2 separate regions of the Homo sapiens genome follow, and region 2 is linked to region 1. Evidence: fine-mapped expression QTL. A gene starts in region 1. The other region holds a variant in brackets. All regions are shown on one strand. Distances are between the middles of the regions.

Evidence for each region. PIP is the estimated chance that this variant, and not a neighbour inherited with it, causes the effect.
Region 2: its variant is fine-mapped to the expression of TAS2R4 in monocytes (BLUEPRINT, PIP 0.95).

Annotation. Positions count from the first base shown.
Region 1 is chr7:141,768,927-141,784,836 of GRCh38, reverse strand. TAS2R4 (taste 2 receptor member 4) reads right to left here and starts at 8,163. Exons shown (of 1, transcript NM_016944.2): 1 at 3,146-8,163. The coding sequence starts at 6,348. The coding sequence ends at 5,449.
Region 2 is chr7:140,893,891-140,909,800 of GRCh38, reverse strand. All of the region lies in intron 1 of BRAF (B-Raf proto-oncogene, serine/threonine kinase), which reads left to right. Among named protein-coding and RNA genes, the nearest start is that of BRAF, 23 kb to the left of the region's middle. The variant A/G (reference allele first, on the strand shown) is at 8,562.

The DNA.
Region 1 (15,910 bases):
AAAACATTTTAAAAATTTAAATAAAACTCAGATATAATAATTACATTTTTAGCATTTAGCAATGAGAATTGTGCGTATCCAGAAGACACTGAGGTGTTCCCATAATATTGCAAAATCACGCTAAGGAAAGGGTCAAGCAGCACAGGCTACAGACGGGGCTTTCTGGGTGTCTGCCCATCCAAGGCAAAGAGTTCACATGTTCATGCTAGTACCAGCTCTCAATGGGACACAGGACTCAAGATTAGCTGTTAGATTAGCTTTCTGTTAGATAGCTTTCTGTTAGATAGCTTTCTGTTAGATAGCTTTCTGTTAGGCCTCAAGATTAGCTTTCTGTTAGATGTATTAATCAATGGGGCACTTGTGGCCATGCAGAGAAAGGCAATGTGTTTGAAGTTGGACAGATTTGGGGGTGCTCCCAACTCAACCACTTCTTGTCCTTAGACAAGCCAATTAACCCCTCTGAGCTTCAGTGTCCCCTCTATAAAATGATGATGATAATGTTACGTCACAGAGCTATCGTGATGATAAAACGAATGACCCAGCCTGTTGCTTCCCAAATAGTCTAATTACTGTTATTTTTCTTTCCTTCCCTGGTGATTTCTCTCCCTAACTACTACTTTCAATAAAGTCAGAAAGCACCTGAAGTCTGTTATTCACAGTATGCAAATCCAGGATGAACTGAGCTACTGATTCTAGACACAGGTGTCCAGTTCTGCACAATTCCAGAATGTCTGGAAAGCATGAATAAAGATGAGAGACTGATTAATCCAGACCTTTAAAACACATAGAAGTCAAAGATGTAAAGGGGTGGGTAGGAGTTAGGAGAGGTCTTTTCTGAGTAATATCAATGTTTAGCTATTTCTTCTCTTGAGGTACCTGGAGTTCAGATCATTATAACCACAGTCATTGTCCCATCTGTGAAAGCAGCAAAATTGAGACAAATAATTTTTCCATATTTAAAATAGGTCAGAAATGTTGTCAGGCCAATCAAGTATGCACCTGTGTTTAGATATCTCATTTGCAAGCTAGCTGTGCACACACTCAGTCATTTGCCCAGGGCTCCTGGCTCCTTCCTGCTGACTCAAGGCAGAGTTACAGTCACCCCATTTCCCAGACCCCATATATCCAAATAGACAACACAGAGGACAATCATACCGTGGTGAAGTGATGTTGACCTCACACCTCTGCCAGGCATGGGGAGGAGGGTGTACAGACTGCACCCCTCCTCCTGCTGTTGACCTTACCCTCATGTCTCCCCTTTCCTCTCCTCTTCTCCCACCCCCATTAACCCGTATCACTCTCTTGTTAATTTCTATGCCAGGCAAATTATTATACAAACATGGAATTTATTTTCACACTTTTTTCCTCATGGAGTAAAACTGGCCTTGGCTCTTCTCTTAGAAGGAGAAATAAATTTATACCTGTGCCTTCCCTTAGACCACAATATCCAAATCCCTAGGGAGTTTTGTCAAATTCCACTTCCCCCTTCCACTCCCACACCCAGAATGAATGAAGACACGTATATTTTAAATAGAGCTGAGAAACCCACACAGACTGTATATAAAATGTGAAAAATAAAAATTCCCAATGGACTCTGACATATTCTCACCCTCCCAGCGCTCTTTGAGAACCAGTGAACTAGAGTAGATGATCCATCTCCAGCTTTAACTTGTAAAAAAAAATTATATTATTGGAAAATTTATTTTAAATGCCTTCAGTAAGCTTCAGTTTCACCTGAAGACTGTAGCTTTTGATGCTACCTTAAAAGTTACATTCCGTTCATGCTTTAAAAGACTCCTTTCCAGTAATCTTTTCTCTTTTTTAAAAAATTGAAAATGGTTCATTAACAGAATGCAGGTAGCAATGATCAGGGAAACCTAAAGCCAGACATGTTTAGAAATGTTTAAGTGAAACTTAAGTGATATAAACAAGCTCTTAAAATCCTTGAAATTTTTAAGAATTTCATTTAGTTCTTATAGAAATTGTATCTACCTTTTCATTACATTTCTGTTGGCCTATTCCTTCCCAAGTAGCAACATTCAAAAGAAATCTAATAATTTTTTCTTCTTTAATGTTACTACTTTTTCACTTAAAAACATATCTCATATAAATCTCAAGGCCTAAAAGCCCAGAGTCTATGTGACACCATGACATTCATTTCAGCTAAGGAAACTAAGCACCCACAATAATTTCATACTTTCAGAGACTACACTGGGAGCTCTGGATCTATTCCTTCCTAGTTCTGCTATTATGAACCATTCATATGGCTTATTTGGGCCTTAATTTTCTCAACTATATAATGGAGACAATAATAGCTATCTTACCAAAGAGGTTATGACCAACTAAAATAATAACGTGGAAATGTAGCTCATACAGTATTGGGCATGTAGCAGTTAAAAGTTAAATGGCAATGACCCTGAGTTCTGGTTACCACGATGGGTGTTTCATGAGGTTGTACACTGTCCTGACACCTGCCCTCCACTTCAGAAAGTGACTTCTTAACAAAGAGTTTTTAACCTCCCTCTATGCTCTGCCTACTGCAGGAAAGGGAGGGGTATGCGGGATATTATTTTTATTAGAGAGCCTCTAAGTTATGTGTCTTGAAAAAATCAAACCAAAATCCAAATTGTTTTAAATCCTTGGTTAATAAGTACTTAGTGGTGGGTATTTAGCAGAGCATATCAGAACCAGCAAAACTCTAAACATACAGCATTCTTAAAAACTGTACCCAAGGGAGACTTTGGGCAAGTGCCTAAGCAAAGACTGAAGACTTTCTTCAAACAGCAAAAACAGTCCTAACACAAAGACAACACATCCAACCCAGAGAGGGGAAAATTGAAGACAGTGTAGGACAAACAGGAAACAAATTGGCAGAACTTTGCCAATACAATAAAAAGAATCCAGACAAAGCAAGACAATTCACTTACCTTTCTTAGCGAGGACAAACTCGATGTTGACCTCAGAACTCCCTCTCTGTCTTTTAGGTAAGTAGGGAGGGAGGGAGGGAGGGAGGGAGGTGAGTGGGTTGGTGGATGGATAGATAGATAGATAGATAGATAGATAGATAGATAGATAGATAGACCATATATACATTATATATTTAAAAATATTTTTTGATTATATAAAAATGTTCATTATAGAAAACTTGAAATACACAAAAAAATTTATTGATTCCTCCCACCTAAAATAATTACTGTTTACATTTTTATATATTTCCTTTTAGACTTTTCTTCATATGTACACATTTTTACCAAAAAAAATGGTATTATACCACATGTACAGGTTTTATTTCAATTTCACTTAGTAGGTCATATAAAAAGGTTCTTTGACTAATAAGATGGTAAATACATACTATTTCATCATAAAGATATATATTATTGTGTATATTTAAGGTATAGCATAGGTTATTTGACTAAGGTAACAGAGACCAAAACTCCAGCACCTGAAAGAATGGAGACACTGATTTCTCATCAACAGTCCTGGAGTTCAGGCTTGAGCAGTCCAGAGCTGGTGTTACAAGTCCACAGTGTGAAGAACCATGGAGCCAGCTCTAGGATGGAGAATTACTTCACTATCCCAAGCATTCACCTCATCTGCATTGTCCAAGATAGACAATCATGATGTCAGCATTCCAGCTCATGGAGGGAGTAACAAAGAAAAGATTAAAGAAGGGAAGGTAGGACTGCTCCGAAGTACCACCCAGAAATTATATACATCTTTTCTGCTCACATACATGGCAATAATGGAATTTGCTGCCAAAATTCTGAACAGCTAATGATTTGATTACTATGGAAGAGAGGAGAAAGAACAGATACTGAGGGACCAATGAGGGTTTCTGCCACTCATTTAGAGTTCTTAAGACATAGTATGCATTTAATCACTCTCAGTAATCCTTTTATCTCTCTTAGGATTTAACATGATGAATACCTCCAGGTTTCATAGCACAAAATATTGGCTTGGGTAATTTTTACTGAATATTGCAGTCAAGATTCTGGTGGCCAGAATGAGAAAAGTCATGTAATTTATAAAATTTTAAGATTTATTTGACATATGTAAATATTACATAAGCATTTTATGAACACCAAAAAAAACCTAAATAAATACAAATTATGATTCCCCAATTGACATTCCAAAACTTGTCAACATCCCATCTTCAGACTGTTGTTCTTTTGGAGCCACAGTCCAATGGTCCCAGCCACAGAAACAACATTCTGGAGAAGAACTGTGCTGTGTACAAATGTATAAGCAGATGAAATAAATTCACCACAAGTCAAGCACTCCCACCACCTGTCCAGTGCTTTTTTGGCTTTCCACTGAGTTCCATAGCCTATGGTGAAGTACAGTATTTTGTAAATTTGTACTCATATGGTGTTAATTTCATTATCTAGCACTTGCCTTTGACCTTAAGCTGGTTTCCCTGGATTTTAAGATTTTTGGAACCATTCTTGATTCAGTTTCTTAAATACTAATCACTTTCCTCTACTTACCAACTCTGGCAATATCCTCTTTTCCAGAACAAGCCTAGAAACCTTAGGGTTTCTTGCTAGGAATAGCACAGTTACTATTACCCAGCAAGTGTGAGGATACTTTTTCTGTCTTGTCCCAGAGTGTACGTCTATTTCTTTTTTTGAGACAGAGTCTTGCTCTGTCGCCCAGACTGGAGTGCAGTGGCGCGATCTCATCTCACTGCAAGCTCCGCCTCCTGGGTTGAAGCCATTCTCCTGCCTCAGCCTCCCGAGTAGCTGGGACTACAGGTGCCCGCCACCACGCCCAGCTAATTTTTTTGTATTTTTAGTAGAGACAGGGTTTCACCGTGTTAGCCAGGATGGTCTCGATCTCCTGACCTCACGATTCACCTGCCTCGGCCTCCCAAAGAGCTGGGATTACAAGCATGAGCCACCGCGCCTGGCCCAGTGTACGCCTATTTCTCTTCACCTTTCTCTTTCCTTCTTTTCTCTCTGAAACCTTCCTTTTTTCCTTTTCTCTTTGCACTGAACCCCCTTCCTCTGCTTTCGGTCAGTCCAGTGGCTCCCAGTGACCACCTATCCACTGCTGAGCCCTTACTCAGGGCTCCTCAGCTAAACCACAAATATCTAACTCATCACGTGCACCCCAATGTGTTCTCTAATTTGGAAGAATTTCCCATTATACTTCAATAGACAATGAAACAATGTGATGATTTCCATTATACATGGATTCAATGGCCATGCAAAATACATGACAAATAATGCCTCAAAAAAGTTTCTTACAGAATGTGCCTTATTTTAAAATACTTACATACCAAAAAAAAAAAATTACAGAATGAACTGAAATTCAGGCACTCAAAAGCCTATGATGTCAGATCAGCAATCACAAAACTGAATTCCCCAGATCACTGGGAAAACTGCAAACAGAAAATCTTGCCCCCAAACCATCAGGTAAATCTAGGTATTGTTTACTGAAATTCCACTATTTTTTGAAACAAAGAATCTTCTTTGCTGTTGTTTTCAGTTTAGGATGTGTGATAATAATGAGAACAGAATGTCCTGGAGAGTAAAGGGTGGCAAAAATCAGACAAATGGATTTGGTCCCCATATCCATCCCTGCATAAAAGGGGAGATACTGGACCAGGGTAGCAACTGAATATGGAATGTAGAGGATGAGGAAATAGACCATCAGCTTCATAGCACCTACATGAGCTTCCGTCTGGGGATTCCAGAAACCAGTGGCATTTTTCTGCATCTTCTGTATATGTCTCCTCAAGGAGTGTATTAGCAAGGAAGCAGAAGTCACATTAATGATGAACTGGAGAGATGAGCTCAAGACCAAAGAAACCACTAAAGACAAGATGCCCTCACTGATATTAAATGATGTGTTATTTCTCGTAGTCACAAGTTCAGGAAAAGGTGATGCCTGGCTAAGCGTGATGTACAGGCAAGTGGTGAAAGCAGAAATCAGCACACAGGCCAGCAGCAGCCTGGGGATCTTTGGGGAGATATTCCGCTTCAGCAGGAGAAACACTGAGTGTTGGAAGTTAGTAATCTTCACACAGTACAAGATATTGAGCAAGGTCACAAACCAGACACTGCTCGAGTCCAAAAACATGAAACACAACACAAAAAAAGCAGACAGGTAGACTGACCTTTCCGTATTTGAAGAGACGAAGTAGATGGTGTTCACCAGAAATAGTCCCAGCATAAGAAACCTGGTGATGCCCAGGCTGAACAGAATCCTATCAGAAGAGGAGATTCTATGGCTTTTGACCCAAGTTTTGCAATTGACCACTGTAATAAACAGATTCATAATGATTCCTACAAAATTTAAAATAACTGAGGCAATAATAGCAGAGAAATAGAATAACCGAAGCATCTTTACTCATTGAGGATTCAGCAGTTGTGGTGCTGATAGTGGAGGCAGAAGAAATACCAAAATGTATAAGCAGACACCAGTATCCAGCCAGGAAGGACATCTCCTTTTTAATTTTTCCCAGCATGGCAAATGAGCCATTCATGATCAAGGGCCACCTGATTTTACTGAGATGCAAATCTTCCAAGGATTACATTACTATTTCTTCATTAGTATCCTGTTCTCCTTAGAAATGCCTAATTACAGCAAGCCTAGGTGATGCTGGGAGTCCACTCCTCCAAGAGCAGGAGGGCGAGAGGGAAGAGTCACAGCAGGCTCCAAAAACTTAGAATCCAAACCAGAGAGCTTGAGTCCAGCAATGTTTCTGTCAATGTTTTACGGTAAAGTTTTTCTTCATAAAAATGCCAGAATATGGTGGAAATCCTAATTCCTCACTCCTACCCACCCACCTCCTAGCCACATATTCATGGATGACCAGAATCCAATTTCTCTCTCCCCTCTAATCTGTTGCTGCCACAACAAGTTTCACCAATTGGCCATGCCAATGCCACTCTTTCAACCTCAGTGATTCACCTATAGCGATTTACAGTGATCTAATAGATCAAGTTCAAAGACCCAATACCTCCTTGAGAAAACCTTTCTCAATTAATCCCATTCTTTCTGATGCCCTTTGCTTTGCCTTCTCTATCTACATACATAGATTTGTGCCATAACCATTTGCTATGTTCTGGTTTTCCTTAGAAAAAATTAAGTCAGCCCTTGTAGGTGTTTCCTTTATAAATCTGGGTTTATGTTTAGATCATATGTGGCTATTTTCTCTTAGGCATTTAACTGTCAATCCAGGTACCCTGGAATGAGATACACAGTAATGCATTAGTTGTAGTTTTGTGAGCCAAACAGCTAGGCATCTCATTGCTGGATTTCTCTGTACTTGCTCAGATGGGAAATGGCAAAATATCCCTGGCAAATGATATTATGGAGGCCCATAGGTGAATGTAAGAGTATGGCATCTCTTATCTTCTCTAGCAGCTGAATGAAACCAAGGTGCAATCCTGGATGCAGCCACAGATGTTACCAAAGTAGCATCAAGGTACAGCACAAAGTCCTACTGCCAAGTCCAAATAGAAACAGACAAGAAAAAGGAGCTAAGATTTAATAATAATCAGGTCCAGAAGAGGGGAATACATTCATGAGGCCCTTTAAGACAGATGACAGGAAGCCTAGCCTGGAGAAATTCTCTGACCTGGTGCCCAGGTGCTTACAGAAGCTTTTTATTCAAAACTAACAGGCACTGATAGAGGCATGCCCACATCAGGTAAGCAGGCAAACAGAATGAGCCAGGAAGACTATGACTAAAAGGAAAATTATAGCACAGATTTCCAATTACTTATCCATAGATGGCTGCATTAAAGTGGTGAAGTTGAAATATTACTAACATCACATTTAAATAGAATAAATGATATAGAGTAAGCCATAACAGATAAATGTGGCCAAAAGAGCAGGAATCCCAGAATTAGATAGTAACAAACTCTATCTAGAATGTACTATACCAAATTGTTGGGTTCTCTGTAGGAGGAAGTGCTATAATTAAGATGTGATAAGGTTGGCTAGCACAATCAATGAATGAGCTCATTCAGTTAGAAGTTATTTCCACAAGGGTCAGTATAGGAAAAGTGTTAGCAGAACCCTTTCTCCCTATGCATGAGAATTTGACCTATGGTTAAACTTCCTAGCTGTTTTCCTTATCATGATGATAAGGATGATAAGGATAATCTTATCCTTATATGATAAGGGTAAGAACATCAACTATGTTTCTAGAACAAAAAAAAAAAAGACTCTTGATTGGAAAATTGCATCTTGACTGGAAGGAACTATAAGTGAACTGTAATAAGTATCTTATGGAGTCTACATGCATTGGGCTTCCTTCCCATGTACCTGTACCTTGACTCAACCCTAGAAGCTTTGTCTACAAAATTACCACAAAATAAATTGGATCTTTTGGGACACGAAGCTTTTAATTTGCAGCAGCTCCCACCCTTACCCTACTGTGGGTCTCTTATTACTGTACCTGAACTGTATGGCCTGCACCAAAAACTCTGCAAAAGAGGAAGGCCTGACACTGCCCTGCTGGTAAATCGGGTCCCTCAACTATATCCATCTGAGTAGGCTGGTACCACAGTAGCCTAAGATAGTCTTATAAGTTTGATTATTTACTAGAGCCCAAGAAGACCAACCAGCAGGCACTGCAGTCATGGATCCAAACTCTGCTTCTTGACAGGTCTGTAAGAAAGGCTTTAGGGCAAATAGTCAAAGCAAATGAATGGCACTTAACTTATTTGATGATGGCTCTGAAGAATGAGGTCAGTCATGAAGAAACAGGAATTTAGAAGTTTGAAATTTTTTCAGGTGGAGCCAACATGGCCGAATAGGAACAGCTCCAGTCTACAGCTCCCAGCATGAGTGACGCAGAAGACGGGTGATTTCTGCATTTCCAACTGAGGTACCAGGTTCATCTCACTGGGGAGTGTCAGACAGTGGGTGCAGGACAGTGGGTGCAGCGCACCGAATGTGAGCCGAAGCAGGGCGAGGCATCGCCTCACCCGGGAAGTGCAAGGGGTCAGGGGATCCCCTTTCCTAGTCAAAGAAAGGGGTGACAGACGGCACCTGGAATATCAGGTCACTCCCACTCCAATACTGTGCTTTTCCAACAGTCTTAGCAAACGGCACACCAGGAGATTATATCCCGCGCCTGGCTCGGAGGGTCCTTTGCCCACAGAGCCTCACTCATTGCTAGCACAGCAGTCTGAGATCAAACTGCAAGGCAGCAGTGAGGCTGGGGGAGGGTCACCCACCATTGCCGAGGCTTGGGTAGGTAAACAAAGTGGCTGGGAAGCTAGAACTGGGTGGAGCCCACTGCAGCTCAAGGAGGCCTGCCTGCCTCTGTAGACTCCACCTCTAGGGGCAGGGCATAGCCAAACAAAAGGCAGCAGAAACCTCTGCAGACTTAAATGTCCCTGTCTGACAGCTTTGAAGAGAGTAGTGGTTCTCCCAGCATGCAGCTGGAGATCTGAGAACGGACAGACTGCCTCTTCAAGTGGGTCCCTGACCCCTGAGTAGCCTAATTAGGAGGCACCCCCCAGTAGGGGCAGACTGACACCTCACACGGCTGGGTACTCCTCTGAGACAAAACTTCCAGAGGAATGATCAGGCAGCAACATTTGCTGTTCACCAATATCCACTGTTCAGCAGCCTCTGATGCTGATATCCAGGCAAACAGGGTCTGGAGTGGACCTCCAGCAAACTCCAACAGACCTGTAGCTGAGGGTCCTGACTGTTAGAAGGAAAACTGACAAACAGAAAGGACATCCACACCAAAACCCCATCTGTACGTCACCATCATCAAAGACCAAAGGTAGATAAAACCACAAAGATGGTGAAGAAACAGAGCAGAAAAACTGGAAACTCTAAAACTCAGAGTGCCTCTCCTCCTCCAAAGGAATGCAGCACCTCACCAGCAATGGAACAAAGCTGGACGGAGAATGACTTTGACGAGTTGAGAGAAGAAGCCTTCAGATGATCAAACTACTCCGAGCTAAAGGAGGAAGTTCGAACCCATGGCAAAGAAGTTAAAAACCTTGAACAAAAATTAGACGAATGGCTAACTAGAATAACCAATGCAGAGAAGTCCTTAAAGGACCTGATGGAGCTGAAAACCAAGGCACAAGAACTACGTGACAAATGCACAAGCCTCAGTAGCCGATTCGATCAACTGGAAGAAAGGGTATCAGTGATGGAAGATCAAATGAATGAAATGAAGCGAGAAGAGAAGTTTAGAGAAAAAAGAATAAAAAGAAACAAACAAAGCCTCCAAGAAATATGGGACTATGTGAAAAGACCAAATCTATGTCTGATTGGTGTACCTGAAAGTGACAGGGAGAATGGAACCAAGTTGGAAAACACTCTGCAGGATATTCTCCAGGAGAACTTCCCCAATCTAGCAAGGCAGGCCAACATTCACATTCAGGAAATACAGAGAACGCCACAAAGATACTCCTCGAGAAGAGCAACTCCAAGACACATAATTGTCAGATTCACCAAAGTTGAAATGAAGGAAAAAATGTTAAGGGCAGCCAGAGAGAAAGGTCAGGTTACCCACAAATGGAAGCCCATCAGACTAACAGCTGATCTCTCGGCAGAAACTCTACAAGCCAGAAGAGAGTGGGGGCCAATATTCAACATTCTTAAAGAAAAGAATTTTCAACCCAGAATTTCATATCCAGCCAAACTAAGCTTCATAGGTGAAGGAGAAATAAAATCCTTTACAGACAAGCAATTGCTGAGAGATTTTGTCACCACCAGGCCTGCGCTAAAAGAGCTCCTAAAGGAAGCACTAAACATGGAAAGGAACAACCAGTACCAGCCACTGCAAAACCATGCCAAATTGTAAAGACCATGAAGGCTAGGAAGCAACTGCATCAACTAACGAGCAAAATAACCAGCTAACATCATAATGACAGGATCAAATTCACACATAACAATATTAACCTTAAATGTAAATGGGCTAAATGCTCCAATTAAAACACACAGACTGGCAAACTGGATAAAGAGTCAAGACCCATCAGTGTGCTGTATTCAGGAAACCCATCTCATGTGCAGAGACACACATAGGCTCAAAATAAAGGGATGGAGGAAGATCTGCCAAGCAAATGGAAAACAAAAAAGGCAGGGGTTGCAATCCTAGTCTCTGATAAAATGGACTTTAAACCAACAAAGATCAAAACAGACAAAGAAGGCCATTACATAATGGTAAAGGGATCAATTCAACAAGAAGAGCTAACTATCCTAAATATATATGCACCCAATACAGGAGCACCCAGATTCATAAGGCAAGTCCTCAGAGACCTACAAAGAGACTGAGACTCCCATACAATAATAATGGGAGACTTTAACACCCCACTGTCAACATTAGACAGATCAACGAGACAGAAAGTTAACAAGGATATCCAGGAATTGAACTCAGCTCTGCACCAAGCAGACCTAATAGACATCTACAGAACTCTCCACCCCAAATCAACAGAATATACACTCTTTTCAGCACCACACCACACCTATTCCAAAATTGACCATATAGTTGGAAGTAAAGCACTCCTCAGCAAATGCAGAAGAAAAGAAATTATAAGAAACTGTCTCCCAGACCACAGTGCAATCAAACTAGAACTCAGGATTAAGAAACTCACCCAAAACCACTCAACTACATGGAAACTGAACAACCTGCTCCTGAATGACTACTGGGTACATAACGAAATGATGGCAGAAATAAAGATGTTCTTTGAAACCAACGAGAACAAAGACACAACATACCAGAATCTCTGGGACACATTCAAAGCAGTGTGTAGAGGGAAATTTATAGCACTAAATGCCCACAGGAGAAAGCAGGAAAGATCTAAAATTAACACCCTAACATCACATTAAAAGAACTAGAGAAGCAAGAGCAAACACATTCAAAAGCTAGCAGAAGGCAAGAAATAACTAAGATCAGAGCAGAACTGAAGGAAATAGACACAAAAAAACCCTTCAAAAAATCAATGAATCCAGGAGCTGGTTTTTTGAAAAGATCAACAAAATTGATAGACTGCTAGCAAGACTAATAAAGAAGAAAAGAGAGAAGAATCAAATAGACACAATAAAAAATGATAAAGGGGATATCACCACCAATCCCACAGAAATACAAACTACCATCAGAGAATACTATAAACACCTCTACGCAAATAAACTAGAAAATCTAGAAGAAATGGATAAATTCCTTGACACATACACCCTCCCAAGACTAAACCAGGAAGAAGTTGAATCTCTGAATAGACCAATAACAGGCTCTGAAATTGAGGCAATAATTAATAGCTTACCAACCAAAAAAAGTCCAGGACCAGATGGATTCACAGCCGAATTCTACCAGAGGTACAAGGAGGAGCTGGTACCATTCCTTCTGAAACTATTCCAATCAATAGAAAAAGAGGGAATCCTCCCTAACTCATTTTATGAGGCCAGCATCATTCTGATACCAAAGCTGGGCAGAGACACAACCAAAAAAGAGAATTTTAGACAAATATCCTTGATGAACATTGATGCAAAAATCCTCAATTAAATACTGGCAAACTGAATCCAGCAGCACATCAAAAAGCTTATCCACCATGATCAAGCAGGCTTCATCCCTGGGATGCAAGGCTGGTTCGACATATGAAAGTCAATAAACGTAATCCAGCATATAAACAGAACCAATGACAAAAACCACATGATTATCTCAATAGATGCAGAAAAGGCCTTTGACAAAATTCAACAACGCTTCAAGCTAAAAACGCTCAATAAATTAGGTATTGATGGGACGTATCTCAAAGTAATAAGAGCTATCTATGACAAACCCACAGCTCATATCATACTGAATGGGCAAAAACTGGAAGCATTTCCCTTTGAAAAGTGGCACAAGACAGGGATGCCCTCTCTCACCACTCCTATTCAACATAGTGTTGGAAGTTCTGGCCAGGGCAATCAGGCAGGAGAAGGAAATAAAGGGTATTCAATTAGGAAAAGAGGAAGTCAAATTGTCCCTGTTTGCAGATGACATGATTGTATATCTAGAAAACCCCATCGTCTAAGCCCAAAATCTCCTTAAGCTGATAGGCAACTTCAGCCAAGTCTCAGCATACAAAATCAATGTGCAAAAATCACAAGCATTCTTATATACCAATAACAGACAGAGAGCCAAATCATGAGTGAACTCCCATTCACAATTGCTTCAAAGAGGATAAAATACCTAGGAATCCAACTTACAAAGGACATGAAGGACCTCTTCAAGGAGAACTACAAACCACTGCTCAATGAAATAACAAATGGAAGAACATTCCATGCTCATGGATAGGAAGTATCAATATGGTGAAAATGGCCATACTACCCAAGGTAATTTATAGATTCAATGCCATCCCCATCAAGCTACCAATGACTTTCTTCACAGAATTGGAAAAAACTACTTTAAAGTTCATATGGAACCAAAAAAGAGCCCGCATTGCCAAGTCAATCCTAAGCCAAAAGAACAAAGCCAGAGGCATCACGCTACCTGACTTCAAACTATACTACAAGGCTACAGTAACAAAAACAGCATGGTACTGGTACCAAAACAGAGATATAGACCAATGGAACAGAACAGAGCCCTCAGAAATAATACTGCATATCTGCAACCATCTGATCTTTGACAAACCTGACAAAAACAAGAAATGGAGAAAGGATTCCCTATTGAATAAATGGTGCTGGGAAAACTGGCTAGCCATATGTAGAAAGCTGAAACTGGATCCCTTCCTTACACCTTATACAAAAATTAATTCAAGATGGATTAAAGACTTAAATGTTAGATCTAAAACCATAAAAACCCTAGAAGAAAACCTAGGCAATACCATTCAGGACATAAGCACGGGCAAGGACTTCATGTCTAAAACACCAAAAGCAATGGCAACAAAAGCCAAAATTGACAAATGGGATCTAATTAAACTAAAGAGCTTCTGCACAGCAAAAGAAACTACCATCAGAGTGAACAGGCAACATACAGAATGGGAGAAAAGTTTTGCAATCGACTCATCTGACAAAGGGCTAATATCCAGAATCTACAATGAACTCAAACAAATTTACAAGAAAAAAACAACCACATCAACAAGTGGGCGAAGGATATGAACAGACACTTCTCAAAAGAAGACATTTATGCAGCCAAAAGACACATGAAAAAATGCTCATCATCACTGGCCATCAGAGAAATGCAAATCAAAACCACAATGAGATACCATCTCACACCATTTAGAATGGCGATCATTAAAAAGTCAGGAAACAACAGGTGCTGGAGAGGATGTGGAGAAATAGGAACACTTTTACACTGTTGGTGGGACTGTAAACCAGTTCAACCATTGTGGAAGACAGTGTGGCAATTCCTCAGGGATGTAGAACTAGAAATACCATTTGACCCAGCCATCCCATCACTGGGTACATATCCAAAGGATTATAAATCATGCTGCTATAAAGACACATGCACACATATGTTTATTGCGGCACTATTCACAATAGCAAAGACTTGGAACCAAGCCAAATGTCCAACAATGATAGGCTCAATTAAGAAAATGTGGCACATATACACCATGGAATACTATGCAGCCATAAAAAATGATGAATGCATGTCCTTTGTAGGGACATGGATGAAGCTGGAAACCATCATTCTCAGCAGACTATCACAAGGACAAAAAACCAAACACCGCATGTTCTCACTCATAGGTGGGAATTCAACAACGAGAACCCATGAACACAGGAAGGGGAACATCACACACTGGGGCCTGTTGTGGGTTGGGGGCAGGGGGGAGAGATAGCATTAGGAGATATACCTAATGTTAAATGATGAGTTAATGGGTGCAGCACACCAACATGGCACATGTATACATATGTAACAAACCTGCACGTTGTGCACATGTACCCTAAAACTTAAAGTATAATAAAAAAAAAAGTTGGGGCAAAAAAACATACACCCTACCTTAAGCTTTTTGTAGCAATGATTTCTATAAATGAGACTTTTTAAGGAGACCCTACGTTAAAAGTTATTGATAATCTAAAATCAAAATTGGCATGAAGATTCTTTTATTAGCTAATATTTCAGAAGTTTTAAGAAAGTAATGTAAACATTTTCAGATTTGTTACTTTTATTTTTTTAAATTATCTTCAAAGAAATTCAGTCTTCTGTCAATATTAATTTATATGAAATAGTAGCTAAACATCTCCTTCTCAGTTTCCAGATGGAAGGTGATTAAATTTAAAATAAGAAAAAAAAAATTTTTTTCAAAAAAGTATAGATGGCACTTAAGAGAAAGAAGAAAACTTCCATTACTTGTGGTTTTTTAAATGCTTGCTATGTTCCCAGCAGTGCATCAGGCATCCTAGGAGGAGTATATGGTTATCCCTATTTATGAGTGAGGAAAATGAAGATCAGGGAAAATAAGTGACTGCCTAATACCAGAGCAAATGCCTTAGCCCATTTTCTGCTGCTATAACAGAATACCACATATTGGGTAATTTATAAAGAAAAGAAGTCTAGTTGGCTCACAGTTCTGAAAGCTGGGAAGTCCAAGAGCATGGTGCTGGCATCAACTCAGCATCTAATGAGGGCCTACTTAGTACTTCATAACATGGCAGAGGGCAAGAATGTGTACATGAGAACAAGACAGGAAAAGGGGGCCAAACTCCCGCAATAACAAACCCACTCCTGCATTAATCCATTCATGAGGGCAAAGCCCTCATGACCGAATCACCTCTTAAAGGCCCTACCTCTCAACACTGTTACAAGGACACAATTACATTCTGTCATGAGTTTTGGAAGGGACATCCAAACCACAGCAGCAAAGAAGTGGCTAAGCTGAAAGGTCTGAGACTGAGCTCTTTCTACTACACTAGACTTCCCCTCACTGGTTCTTTCATTCTATAAACTGTTATCATCAGCCAGACACTGTTAGGTGCTAGGGAAATAGAGAAGAATCACCCACAGCAC
Region 2 (15,910 bases), 880 kb after region 1:
AGTTTCGCTCTTGTTGCCCAGGCTGAAATGCAGTGGCACCATCTAGGCTCACTGTAACTGAGGCACCTTTAATATACACTAAGATTTTCAGGAATTCAGTTACCACAATATTGGAGGAATGTTAAAGTTTTTGTTCAGAACTTTATCAGGAGTACTCCACCCCTTTAGAAAATCACGTAATTGATGGCAGTGTCACTTGTGCTGTATTGGTGACGCAAATACTCTTCAGTCTGCAGTTGTAACTGCCACAGTCACAGTGCTTGTTGTATATATGTACAAAGTACCATCAGTGTGTTATTTATTATAGTAATAGCCTAAATATTATAAAATTGCACTAAGGTAGATTATCTCTGAATTACATTTATTTTTTATTTTTATTTTTGTGACGGAGTTTTGCTCTTATTGCCCAGGGTGGAGTACAATGGCGTGCTCACCAAAACCTTCGCCTCCCGGGTTCAAGCGATTCTCCTGCCTCAGCCTCCCAAGTAGCTGGGATTACAGGCATGTGCCACCATGCCCGGCTAATTTTGTATTTTTATTAGAGACGGGGGTTTTCCATGTTGGTCAGGCTTGTCTTGAACTCCCGACCTCAGGTGATCTGCCCGCCTCGGCCTCCCAAAGTGCTGGGATTACAGGCATGAACCACTGTGCCCAGCCTCTGAATTACATTTAAGGGTAGTATAGAGAATGTACAAAATAGTTGTTGTAAAAAGGAGAAATTGATTTCTGTTTTCAGTATTGGAAGACTGGGTTATTCAGATGAAAACAATTAAAATTCTTGGAAACAGTATTAAAAAAAAAAAAAAAAAAAGAAAACGTAGAGCAGTTGCAGAGCTGAAAAGATAGTGGGGAGCTGCCAGGCCAAATTCTAGGAATAAACAAGAATCCAAATAAATAAGTGGATGAAGTAGCTTTTGCCCTAAAGGCAGTTGCCAATCTGTACAAGTTGGGCTTTGGTTTTGGTGGACCATTGGGGTGAAGAGGACAGAAATCAAGTCCTAGAGTTCATCTAAAGTGACAGTCAAAAAGAATAACCTCAGTTTTAGATGGGACCCCAGTGACTCTATCGTTAGGTTAAGGGTGAAACAACTGAACTGTCTACACACTCCCATATCCATGTGATTGCAGGGAAGGTTGAATGGAGCAGGAGGAGGAAAAGGAAATTAAGAAAAATAAACCTTTCAAGTTGTGACCACAGTTTTAGCCTTCACAGTGATTTGCCTTGAGGGTTTGCTCTGTCTGGGTGGTCCAGGGACCCTCCATGATAAATGACCCTCCAGCCATTTATCATGGTTACTGGTTTCAGACTAGTATTACTTCCATGGCCTGGCAGATGGAAAGGCAAATCACGTGTGGAGAAAGGCCTTTCATTCTAGGGAATTGCTTCCAGTAATTTTTCAAGGACAATGAACAGTACATTGTCACAAGTAATCAAACATAGTAAAAATAAAAAAATTAGCAAGCAAAATTACCTGAGAGATATATAATATGTAATATATATGTAGAATTCTTTCAGCAATGTAATTAAAATTTGTGTGGGTTTCTTTATGTATATATACCTAAAATTACGTTTTTACAGAGGAAAAATAATAACCAAGCATGCATCCAATTGGCACTGTGAATAAGAAGAGAGCAGAAACAGATCTATAAAATCTTCAAATGTTGCAAATATCAGATGGATTTAAAACAATCACTGTTAAATTTAAAGAATTGGAGACAAACTTGAAGAACAAAAGACTCTTATAAAGTGACTTAGGGCCAGGCACGGTGGCTCACGCCTGTAATCCCAGCACTTTGGGAGGCCAAGGCAGGCGGATCACCTGAGGTCAGGAGTTCAAGACCAGCCTGGCCAACATGGTGAAACTTTGTCTCTACTAAAAATACAAAGATTAGCCACGTGTGGTGAGGTGCACCTGTAATCCCAGCTGCTCAGGAGGCTGAGGTGGGAGAATCACTTGAACCTGGGAGGTGGAGATTGTAGTGAGCCGAGATGGCACCACTGCACTCCAGCCTGGCCTATAAGAGTGAAACTGTGTCTCAAAAAAAAAAAAAAGTTACTTTGGTTCATGCCTGTAATCCCAATACTTTGGGAGACTGAGGTGGGAGGGTCACTTGAGGCCAGGAATTTGGGACCCGCTTGAGCCCAGGAGTTTGAGGCTGCAGTGATGTATGATTGTGCCACACTGCACTCCAGCCTAGGCAACAGAATGAGAAACTGTCTCAAATAAAGGAAAAAAAATGGCTGGGCACGGTGGCTTATGCCTGTAATCCCAGCACTTTGGGAGGCTGAGGCCGACAGATCACGAGGTCAGGAGATTGAGACCATCCTGGCTAACACAGTGAAACCCCACCTCTACTAAAAGTACAAAAAATTAGCTGGGCATGGTGGCAGGCACCTGTAGTCCCAGCTATTCGGGAGGCTGAGGCAGGAGAATGGCGTGAAACTGGGAGGTGGAGCTTGCAGTGAGCTGAGATCGCACCACTGCACTCCAGCCTGGGTGGCAGTGCAAGACTCTGTCTCAAAAAAGAAAAGGGGGGGAAAAACCCAACTTAATAGATTTGCAAAAAACCAAATAGAAATTCCAGAAGTGAACACTTTACCAAATATACCTAAGAGATTATGCCTAGCTGAAGAAAGAGTTCATTGCCTGGGAGACAAGGCAGAAGAAACTGTTTAGAGTGTAGCACAGAATAAAAAAGAAAATATTGAAGAGAGGTAAAGAGACATGGAAGACAGAATAAGATCTAATTTCTTTAATCAGAGCTCTGGAAAGAGAGGAGAAAGAATGGTACAGAAGTAATATTTCAAAAGATATTTCTGGCTGAAAATTTTATAGATCCAATGAGAAACCAGTTGATTGATTTAAGAAGGTTAATGAATTTCTAGCAATATAAATAGAAATCTACACCCAGACAAATCATAGGAAAACTGCATAAACCCAGATACAAGGAGAAAAGTCTTGAAAGTAGCCAGAGAGAAAAAAAGATGTTTTTCAAAGAAGCAACTATGGACTGATGGTTGACTTTTCAATAGAAAATTACATATATTCTCAAAATAACTGCCAATCTAGAATTCTGTAATTAGCAAAGAATTATCCCTCTACAATGAGGGTAAAATACTTAGTTGAACAAACTCCATCAGCTCTTTCTAAAGGAAATTATGAAGTATACATTAATACTTAAGGCAGAAAGATTCTAGATAAAAGTCTGAGGTGCAAAATGGAATAAAGAGCAAAGAGAGTGGCAAATATGTGGATGTATTAAAAGAAACGTTGACTGTATAAAGTACTAGTAAGACCTTAATTAAAATATGTGACAAGAAGCTGGGCATGGTACTTTGAGAGGCTGAGGCGGGCAGATTGCCTGAGCCCAGGAATTTGAGACCAGCCTGGGCAACATAGTGAAATCCCGTCTCTACAAATAATATAAAAATTAGCTGGGTGTGGTGGTGCATGCCCATAGCCCCAGCTACTCAGGTGGCTGAGGTGAGAGGATCGCTTGAGCCCAGGAGGTTGAGGCTGCAGTGATCCTTGGTCGTGCCACTGCACACCAGCCTGGGCAACAGACTGAGACCCTGTCTCAAAAAAAATATATGACAGGCGAAGGCCGGGTTCTAAGACCTTTGTATTGTCAGAGAGAAAGGTAGAAAGTATTAATTGACTTGACCTTGATAAATTATATGTTTTAATTTCTTTTTTTTTTTTTTTTTTTTTGAGACGGAGTCTCGCTCTGTTGCCCAGGCTGGAGTGCAGTGGCGGGATCTCGGCTCACTGCAAGCTCCGCCTCCCGGGTTCACGCCATTCTCCTGCCTCAGCCTCCCAAGTAGCTGGGACTACAGGCGCCCGCCACTACGCCCGGCTAATTTTTTGTATTTTTAGTAGAGACGGGGTTTCACCGTTTTAGCCGGGATGGTCTCGATCTCCTGACCTCGTGATCCGCCCGCCTCGGCCTCCCAAAGTGCTGGGATTACAGGCGTGAGCCACCGCGCCCGGCCTATGTTTTAATTTCTAAGTTATCTTCTAAAAATGTAGAAACCAGACTTTTAACTTCTCAACCAACAGAAGATAACAAATGATTAATAAAAATTAATCCTGAAGAAGTGAAGAAAAGAAAGAACCAGTAGGACAAGTAGCACAAAGATGGGTAGATTTAAATCTAAACATATCACCAGCTACATTAAATACAAAATGGATTAAATTATTCAGTTAAAAGCCAAAGATTGTTACACTGAATTTCCAAAAAAATTCAGTTATATGGGGTTTATAAGGAACATATCTGAAACCTAAGAATAAAGAAGATCAAAAGTAATCATCACAATAAGACATACCATGCATATTCTAGCAGACAGTATGGTACAGTTAATATCAAAGGTGGACAGTAAGGCAGAAAGCATTATTGGCAGAAGAGTCACCTCAAATGATAAAATGACCAATTCACTGTGAAGATTTAATAGCCTTAGTAATATAGTATAACCTGAAATATAGCTTTAGAATATTTATAGCAAAAGTTAAACAAAACTACAAGAAATAGACAGATTTCTCAGTCTTAATGGGGTATTTTTAAACAGCTCTTTAAGTAACTGGTATAAGAAGCAGACAGGTTAGTTAGGATATAAAATATTTGTATAACACAATGAACAAGTTTAACCCAGTGGGTGTATAGAACCCATTCTACCCAACAGTGGCAGGCTACACATTCTTTTCAAGCATGTAGGATTTTGGGGGGAAAATTGACTGAGTAATAATGTTGTAAAACAAGTTTCAACAAATTTCAAAGGATTGAAACCAAAAAAGCATTTTTTTCTGTCCATTTTCATTAAAGATCTCTATCAATAGGGTAATTTTTAAAGCTTCATGTTAGAAATTGAGCAACTATTAATACTTGGAAATAATCTGGTCAGGCGCAGTGGCTCACACCTGTAATCCCAGCACTTTGGGAGGCCGAGGCAGGCGGATCACGAGGGCTGGAGTTCGAGACCAGCCTGGCCAACATGGTGAAACCCCGTCTCTACTAAAAATATAAAAATTAGCTGGGCGTGGTGGTGCATGCCTGTAGTCCCAGCTACTTGGGAGGCTGAGACAGAAGAATTGCTTGAACCCAGGAGGCAGAGGTTGCAGTGAGCCGAGATCGTGCCATTGCACTCCAGTCTGAGAGAGCGAGACTCCCTCTAAAAAAAATAATAATCCATGCATCAAAGAAGAAATCACAATGGAAGTTAGAAAATACCTTGAACTAGATGATTAAAAATTTTTGATTGATCAAATTCCACAACTTGATATATCTTAGACCATTGAAAGTGAGAGAATCAAATGTTATGTCTTTAGATACGAAGTTTCTTGACACCCCTCCCTGCCTCCCCCAAAAAAGAAATACCTACCACCTATGAAAGATTCTTGATTGGAAAAAAAAAAAATAACTGAGCTGGAGTTTCATTAAACTTCTAGATCTACTGGGAAATTCACAGTCATTTGATCTTTCAATGAGTCATAATTGTTTTGCTGTGGATGGTCTTGCCTCGATGTTGATGGCTGCTGGTTCATCCCTGGTGGTTACTGAAGGATAGGATGGCTATGCCAGTTTCTTAAGACAACAGTGAGGTTTGCGACATCAGTTGACTTCTTTTCACAAAAGATTTCTCTGTACCAGGCGATGCTTTCTGGTAGCATTTGAACCACAGTAGAACTGCTTTTAAAATTAGAGTCAGTCCTCTCAGATCTGCCAGTGCTTCATCAACTAATTCTATGTAATATTCTAAATCCTTTGCTGTCATTTTAACAGTGTTTGCTCACAGCATCTTCAGCAAGAGTAGAGTTCATGTCAAGAAACCACTTTTTTTACTCATCCATAAGAAGTAACTTCCCATTTGTTCAAATTTCATCATGATATTGTAGCAATTCAGTCACATCTTTAGGTTCCACTCCTAAATGTAGTTCTTCTGCTGCTTCTACTACACCTACAGTTCCTTCCTCCATTGAAGTTTTGAACTCAAAGTCATCCATGAGGGTTAGAATCAACTTCTTCCAAACTCCTGTTAATGTTGCCAGTTTTACCTCCTCCCATGAATTACAAATGTTCTTTATGGCATCGAGAAAGGTGAATTCTTTGCAGAAGGCTTTCAATTAATGTTGCCCAGATCCATCAGAGTAATAACGATATCTATGGCGGCTATAGCCCAATGAAAGGTACTTCTTAAATAAGGAATGTTGAAAGTCACAATTACTTCTTGATCCATGGGTTGCAAGATTTATGTGTTAGCAGGTGAGAAAACGTTCATCTTCTTGTAGCTCTCCATCAGAGCTCTTGGGTGACCAGGCACATTGTCAATGAGTAGTAATGTGTTAGAAGGAATCTTTTTTTCTGAGCGGTGGGTCTCAACAGTGGGCTTAAAATATTCAGCAAACTATGTTGTAAAAGAATATGCTGTCATCCAGGCTTCATTGTTCCATTTACAGAGCACAGACAGTAAATTTTGCAGAATTCCAAAGGCCCTAGGATTTTTGGAATGATAAATGAGCATTGGCTTCAACTTAAAGTCACCAGCTGCATTAGCCTCTAATAAGAGTCATCGTGTCCTAGGCCAGGCGTGGTGGCTCATGCCTGTAATCCCAGCACTTTGGGAGGCCGAGGTGGGCGGATCACCTGAGGCCGGGAGTTCAAGACCAGCCTGGCCAACATGGAGAAACCCTGTCTCTACTAAAAAAATACAAAATTAGCCAGGCATGGTGGCACATGCCTGTAATCCCAGGTACTCAGGAGGCTGAGGCAGGAGAATCGCTTGAACCCGGGAGGCAGAGGTTGCGGTGAGCCGAGATCATGCCATTGTACTCCAGCCTAGGCAAAAAGAGCGAAACTCCATCTCAAAAAAAAAAAAAAAAAAAAAGTCATCCTGTCCTTTGAAGCTTTGAAGCCAACCATTGACTTAGGGAAATGTTGTGGCTGGTTTGATCTTCTATCCAGATCACTAAAACTTTCTTTATATCAGCAACTAGGTTGTTTTGCTTGCTTGCTTTTCTTAAACTATTTTTCTTTTAATTCTTAGAGGGTCTCACTGTGTTGGCTAGGCTGGTCTCAAACTCCTGGCCTCAAGCAATCCTCCCACCTTGGCCTCTGAAAATGCTGGGATTATAGGCATGAGCCGTAGTGCCCGGCCTGTTTTGCTTTCTTATCATTCATGTATTCACTGGAGTAGTGCTTGTAGTTTCCTTCAAAAACTCTGCCTTTGCATTTACAATCTGGCTGTTTGGTACAAGAGGCCTGCCTTTCAACATGCCTTCTTCACTAAGCTTAATCATTTCTAGCTTTTGATTTCAAGAGAGAGACATGTGACTCTTGGTTTCACTTGAACACTTAGAAGTCATTGTAGGGTTTTTAATTGGCCTAATTTCAATATTGAAATCTCAGGGAATAGGAGGCCCAAGAAGGGGTTAGGGCAGTAGCTGGTCAGTGGAGCAGTGAGAACACACACAACATTTACTGAAGAAGTTCACTGCCTTATATGGGTGTGGTTCGTGGCACCCCAAAAGAATTACAATAGTAACATCGAAGATCATAGAACACTAAAATAGACAGCATAATAATGCAGAAGTTTGAAATACTATGAGAATTACTGAAATGTGACAGAGACATGAAGTGAGCATATGCTGTTGGAAAAATGGTGCCAACAGATTTGCTCGATGCTGGGTTGCCACCAACCTTCAGTTTGTAAAAAACAAACAAAAACCATTATCCGCTAAGAGCAGTAAAGCAAAGCACAATATGATGAAGCATGCCTGTACAGTTTATACTTCACAGTCATTGGTTAAATTTACTCATTCCTTTAAGCATAAAAAATAAATATTTAGCACCTTTGTGCTGAGTTGTATGCTAGGCACTGGGATATAGAAATGAATGATAGTTTGTCTTCAAGGAGCTTACAGTTAAGTGGTAGAAGTAGATAAATAAAGAATTAAGGACAGTGTACTGTGATGAAAGTGTGCCCCAGATGCAGAAGAATCACAGAAAAGGAGCACAATTCAATATGCTTTTAGGGGATGGAAGACAGATTTCCTAGGAAAGGAGATACTTAAACTGAATTTTAAATACTTCAGATATACAAAATCTTTATAAAGAAGAGTAATTAAACCTTATTTAGAGACAGACCACCTAAATAAATGGTACATACCCTGTACTGAGTGTGGATTGGAAGACTGAGTATGTTAAAAATGTTAGTATTTCTCAAATTGATAGTGGATTTATTGAAATCCAAATGCAAATTCCTGTAGGTTTTTCTATGGAACCTAACAACCTGATTCAACAATTTCTGTGGAAGCTTTAAAGAGGCAAGAATAGCCAAAATATACTTTAAAAACAATAAGGTAGGAAGACTTCTTTAATTCCTTTTTCCACTCGGCAAATTTTTAATGCTCTATGGTAGGCACTGCTCATCCTGGTTATTACCTTTGTGAATGTGAGATCTGGCTCCCACCCAAAGCTCACATTCAGATCCACTTGTAGTGGTATCTAGGGTTTTGAATAGAACACTTCCTGAAATACAGGTTAAGTACTGGGACTACCAACAAACA[A/G]ACTTACAACACTAATTTTATTATCTCATATTTGTATTTACAATTTTTCTTGATCATATTTTTTCATACAAACTTTAATTAGTTTCTATTAATTTCTTTTAACATAGGAAGCTTAGAAATAGACACACTTTGCTTATAATAGATCTTTAATATTATGTCAGTTGGACTATGGCTTTGTTAGAAAAGGAGAGGAGAATCTACTGCTGAGTGCTGTCCAAAGAGCAGTTACCCAACTGAGCAGAGAGGGAGGATGACCTTGAGGGTCTCACAGGCATGGGTTTTTAGGCCCAGCCTGTGGAGCGTCTGAGGGACTTATAAAAGGAAAAGGGACCCAGGTGCAGTGGCTCATGGCTGTAATCTCAGCACTTTGGGAGGCCAAGGCGGTTGGATCACTTGAGGCCAGGAGTTCGAGACCAGCCTGGCCAACATGGTGAAACCCCGTCTCTACTAAAAATACCAAAATTAGCTGGCTGTGATGGTGCACGCCTGTAATCCCAGGTACTCGGGAGGTTGAGGCCCAAGAATCACTTGAATCCGGGAGGTGAAGGTTGTGGTGAGCTGAGATTGTGCCATTGCATTCTAGCCTGGGCAACAGAGCAAGACTCAGTCTTAAAAACAAACAAACAAGCAAACAGAAAACAACAGAAAGAGGAGATGAATAACAAAATGGCAGGTAATACTAAATAATATGGATGAATTTTATATTCTTACATATGGGTAGGTGGAGGGACACCTGCTCTTGTGGCAGATTAGTTGGGAAAGGATACACTTGCTGGAACAATGCCTACCATATTAAATAAATGAAGCTAGACTTCCCCATCTGTTATGCATAAAAATCAATTTCTTGTAGGTTAAAGATTCAATACAAAAGGGGAAACCCTGAAAGCTTTTAGAAAAATAAAGGGACATTATTTAAGGCAGAGAAGAATTTCTTAAGACTCAAAAAACTAGCCATAAAAAATGGACAAATTTGACTACATTGAAAATAGAAACTTTTTTCATTAAGCCCCATTAAGACACTCAAAAGGCAAGGCAAGGAATAGAAGATACTTATAACACACACTATTAGTTATCTATTGTTGTGTAATTACCGAAGACTTAGCAGTTTGAAATAACATTTCTCTCACAGTTCTGTGGGTCAGGAAACTGAGAGTGGCTTAATTGGATGTTTCTGGCTTAGGGCCTTGAGGCTGTAATCAGTCAATGGCTGCAGTCATTTGAAGGCTTGACTGCTTTGTGCTCCCTCATGTGGATGTAGCAGGCCTCAGAGCTGGCTTTCTAGAAGGGAGTAAGAGAAAACACCCAAGATGGAAACCACAGTATTTTAGTCTTGGAAGTGGCACCCCATCACTTCTGCCATATTCTTTTTGTTAGAAGCAAGGCAATAACTCCAGCTTACATTCAAGGGGAGTTTGTACAAGGCACCACCAGGAGGGTGAGGATCATTGGGAGCCAGTTTAGAGGCTACCTACTACAACATGTAAAGAATGAACTGGTATGAAAAATATACATAAAAAATTCCTATAGATTTCTAAGACAAAGACAGAACACCAAATTGGAAAAAGGGCAAAAAATCCTGAGCAGGCATTTGAATTAAAAAAAAATTTAAATGATTAATAAACATATGAAATGACCCTTAATCTAGTTAACAATTAGGGAAATAGAAATTAAAACCACAATGAGAGACCATTTCATATAGATTGGCAGAAATGAAAAAATCTGACAATATTAAATGTTGGTGAGGCTATGAAGCAGTCTGAACTGTCTTCCACTGATGGATGGGAATGTAAATTGGGGGGAAAAATCCTTTGGAAAATAATAGGATATCCTATAACCAGCAATACCACTCACTCTTAGGCGTTTGCCCTAGACTAATGGTTCTTGAGTATGCATCAAAGTCATCTGGAGGGCTTGTTAAACCCAGCTGTTGGGGCTACCCTTAGAGTTTCTGATTAAGTAGGAATTGGGTGGAGCCTGATAGTTTGCTTTGCATTTTTAACAAGTTCCTGCCGGGAGTGGGCTGAGGGGTGGGGGGGTGGGATGTTGGTGCTGCTTGTCCAGGAATCATACTTTGAGAGTCAGCCATTGCTTTAGACATAGAGAAATGTGTGAATATATGAAGTAGGAAGCATATATATAAGATTGCTCATAACAGTATTATTCATATTAACCCCAAGATAGAAAAAAAGTTCAAGTATCCTCAGTAGTGCAGTAGATATCATTGTGTGTTTACTTATGGAACAAAAAACTAGTTCAAATAGCTAAGGAAAAAAACCACACTACAAACAGCTCCTGCCTGCATCAATATGTATGAATCTCACAAATACATTAGTCATACCTTAGAACCAAGTCACAAAAGATTAAGTGCAACATGATTCTATTCGTAAACAGTTTAAAAACAAATGCAGTTAACTGTATTGTTTAGGAATACAAATATAGGTACTAGAATTATAAGTAGAGATACTAGAATTATAAGAAAAATCAAGGGAATAATGATGATAAAAGTGAGTGATAGTGACTACCTCAGGGAGGAGAGAAAGTGGATGTGATTAAGGACAAATGGGAGACTTTTAAGATAATTGGCAATGCTATTTCTTACCTTGGGTTGTGGGGTTTGCTTTACAGTTATGCTTTAATGGAACGATGTTTTGCAAACTTCTCTACATAGCTTTATAATAAAGGGAAAATTTATCTCATTTAATTTTCATCTCTGATTACTAGTGAGGTTGAGTATGTTTTCATATGTTAGCCTTTGGGTTTTTTCTTAAATTGTTTATAGACATGCCATTTGTAGATTATGCTATTTGTTTTTAGAACTTATTTTTAGGTATTCTGTTATGGATAGTCTTCTTTATCCATCATATGTCAAATATTTCCTTCTAGTCCTTTTTTATTTGTATTTTTATTTATTTTTATTTCTTTTTTAAGAGGCAGGCCTCCCACTCTATTGAGGCCTAGGCTATGGATAGTCTTCTTTATCCATCATGTCAAATATTTCCTTCTAGTCCTTTTTTATTTGTATTTTTATTTATTTATTTTTTTAAGAGGCAAGCCTCCCACTCTTTTGAGACCCAGGCTGGAGTGCAGTAGTGTGATCATAGCTCACTGCAGCCTCCTGGGCTCAAGCAGTCTTCTAGCCTCAGCCTAAGTAACTGGGACAAATGCACACCACTGTGCCCAACTAATTTGAAAAAGAAAAAATTTGTAGAGATGGAGTCTTGCTGTGTTGCCCAGGCTGGTCTCGACTCCTGGCTTCAAGTGATTCTCCCACCTTGGCCTCCCAAAGTGCTGGGATTACAGACGTGAGACACTGTTCCTGCCCTAGCCTTTCCTTATAAAGACATATGTTGTTGTTACTGTTTATGTGGTCAGATTTAGCAGTCTTTTCATTTATTTATTTATTTTGATTTTGATTTTGATTTTTTTAAGAAATCTTTCCTGGCTGGGCGCGGTGGCTCACACCTGTCATCCCAGCACTTTGGGAGGCCAAGGTGAGCAGATCATGAGGTCAAGAGATTGAGACCATCCTGGCATGGATGAAACATGGTGAAACCCCATCTCTACTAAAAATACAAAAATTAGCTGGACGTGGTGGTGTGTGCCTGTAGTCCCAGATACTCGATAGCCTGAGGCAGGAGAATTGCTTGAACCCGGGAGGCAGAGGTTGCATGAGCTGAGATTGTGCCACTGCACTCCAGCCTGGCGACAGAGCAAGACTCTGTCTCAAAAAAAAAAAAAAAAAAAAAGAAAAAAGAAATCTTTCCTATCCAGAGTTAAAAGCATATTCTCTATATTGTCTTCTGATAAATTGAAAATTTTAAAAATTTTGTTTAGGTATTTAAGCAGTCTAGTATTTGTTATATGAAGATGTCTTGGGGGATGTTATTTTCCCAACACCATTTGTACATATGTGCACAGTCTTTTTCTCACTTATTTGTAAAGCAACCTCTCATTTCTACCAGATTCCCATGGACCGATTTCTGGGCTACTTCTTAACCTGTTTGTCTATAACCTGTTTGTCCACATTACTACTTTATATCTTTGGTTTTGGTAATGCCAGTCTCTTCTCTTTGTTTATTTGCGGCAAACATATGCTCATTCACTCTTCCACGTGACCATTAGAAGAATTAGATTGTCAATGTCCTCTAAGTCTAGGTATTTGGTTAAAAAAAAAAAAAAAGAATTAGGTTGTCAAATTCTGTAAAAAGTACTATTGGGATTTTCATTGTGATTGCATTAAGTTTATATGTTAATGTAGGGACATATATATTAGAGATTTATTATGATACTGAGTTTTCCAATTCATGAACATGGTTTTTATCTTCATTTGTTTATAGGTCTCTTCCCCCCCCACCCCTTTTTTTTTTTTTTTTTTTGAGATGGAGTCTCGCTCTGTCACCCAGGCTGGAGCACAGTGGCACAATCTTGGCTTATTGCAGTCTCTGCCTCCCATGTTCAAGCAGTTCTCCTCTCAGCCTTCCGAGTAGCTGGGACTATAGGTGCACACCACCATGCCCGGCTTATTTTTGTATTTTCAGTAGAGACGGAGTTTCACCATATTGGTCAGGCTGGTCTCGAACTCCTGACCTCAGGTGATCCACCTGCCTCGGCCTCCCAAAGTGCTGGGATTACAGACGTGAGCCACCGCGCCTGGGCCATGTGTTTCTATTTTTAGTAGAGACAGGATTTCACCATGTTGGCCAGGCTGGTCTCAAACTCTTGACCTCAGGTGATCCACCCGCCTCAGCCTCCCAACGTGTTGGGATTACAGGTGTGAGCCACTACTCCCAGCTCTGTTTTTTTTTCCTTAAAAGGTTTATAGTTTTCTACATAATGTTTTCATCCTTTTGGATGTGGAGGATTGGTATTATTTGCGAGAATCTTTTTGTGCTGTTGTGAATGAGATGTTTAGAAAAAAATATATTTTTTTACTGGATATTCATATACAGAAGAATGAAACTAGACCCCCACCTCTCACCCTATACAAAAATCAACTCAAAATGGATCAAAGACCTACCTGTAAGACCCAAAACTACAAGGTGAAACCACAGTGTGGTATCATCTGGCCCCAGGTAGGATGGCTGCTATAAAACTGTAGAAGACTTGGGAAATGCAAATCAAAACCACAGTGAGGTATTGTCTCATCCCAGTTAGGGTGGCTGTTATAAAAAAGACAAAAAATTAAAAATGCTGGTGAAGATACAGAGGAAAGAGAACTCTTGGACGCTCTTGGTGGGAATGTAAACTAGTACAGACACTGTATCAGTATGGAGGTTCCTGTGATCTAGCAATCCCACTACTGGCCGTTTACCCAAAGGAAGGGAAGTCAGTACGTCGAAGAGACATTTGCATCCCCATGTTTACTGCAGCACACTATTCACAGTAGCCAAGATATGGAATCAGTTCAACAACAGAAGATTGGGTAAAGACAATGTGGTTGTATAGCATCCGATGGAATGCTATTCAGCCGTAAAAAGGAAAAATCCTGTCATTTGCAGCAACATGATTGGAACTGGAGGACATCACGTTAAGTGAAATAAGCCAGCAAAAGAAAGTTAAACCCTGCATGTTCTCACTCTTATGTGGAAGCTAAAAAGAGTTGATTTCATAGAAGTAAAAAGTATAACAGAGGATACTCGGGCTGGGAATAGTAGGGGTAGAGTGGAAGCTCTGGGGAGATTTATTCATGGATACAAAATTACAGCTAGATAGGAGGAATAAGTTCTAGTGTTCTGTAGTAGTATAGGGTGACTATAGTTAATAATATATAGTTTCATATAGCTAGGAGGAGGATATTGAATATTCCCAACACAAAGAAATGACGAATGTTTCTCCTGTCTTTAGTGAGAATGCTTCTGTTATGCTTGGTGACTTACAGACTTTTTATAGATACCCTATATGAAGTTTAAGAATGTTTCTTCCATTTCTAGTTTGCTGACAGTTGGGCATTTTTAAAAATCCTAAATGGTTGTTGAATTTTGTTAGATTTTTTTCGTACATTTATTGAGGTGATCATGTTTTTTTCCTACATTGATCTATTTAGGTAAGTAATTGTATTGGTAGACTTCCTAGTTTTGAGTAAGCAACTCTTGTGTCACTGGATACATTTTATTGTATATTCTTTTAATTGATTGTTGAATTAGGTTTGCCTAATTCAGGTTTTTATTTAGGGATTTTACGACTGTGTTTACAAGTGAGCTCAGTCTATACCTCTCTGAGCTGTTCCATGGTTTTGGTATCAAGAGCTGATTCGTTTTCTAGAGTTTTCTGTGATTTTGGCCAGTTTTTATATCAGACCAAAGAAAATGTTTCTCGAAAGTAAGTTCATTAGGCTTTAAGTAACCACTGGGCCCATTCTTTGACTTTCAACTTTTCTGAGTGAGTTTTAGATGTGGATGTTATATACAGCATTTGTTCAGGGCTTTGGTTTGTGAGCTGAGTTTCTTTTTTTATTTTTTTAATAGATGAGCTTATCTCATTTATATTTTGTTGATAAGGCAGTTCTTCCACATTATTAATTATATTTTTCTTTGGGGGCTTTGTCTCTTATGGGTATGTGTGTGTTTCCCATCTAATAGTTTTTGATGATTTTTTATAAATCTTATTCTCTTACTACCTTCATAGATTTAATATCTGTAAGCCTCCATTTCTTGATTTGTGAAAATAATCAGGACTATTTTAACTCCTTGCTAATAAAGGTAAGAAAATCAGTACACTTATACCTCCCTTTCCCCAGCTACCATTAAAAAAATTTTTTTCCATCTCTTCATATGAGATATAAACCTTGTCATTGAAAAAAATGCATTTATTTTTTACTTTATCCTTAAGTCTCAGAGTTACATGTTTGAATGGGATTAATATTCACCTTTAATTCTTTAAAACCATGACTTCTTGATTTCTAATTCTGTTTTATTTATCTTTTCATCAGCTTGATTTTCCTATCAAGTAGTTCTGTTTTTTCTGCCAAGAATGGCTTCCTTTTTTCTTCTTCAGCCATTTCTTTCTGTTTCCACCGTGGCCTTCATTTCTGAAGTGGTCTTTTTATTACCTTCCATTTCTTTCTTGAACCCTGCTAACTCACTTTTCATTTCCTATTTCTTTTTTTTGAGACAGGGTCTGGGTCTCTCACTCAGGCTGGAGTGCAGTGTTGTGATCTTGGCTCACTGCAACCTCTGCCTCCTGGGCTCAAGCCATCCTCCCATCTCGGCCTCTCAATTAGCTGGGACTACAGACATGTGCTACCACACCTGGCTAATTTTTTGCATTTTTTTGTAGAGGCAGGGTTTCATCATGTTGACCAGGCTGGTCTCAAATTCGCCTTGGCCTCCCAAAGTGCTGGGATTACAGGA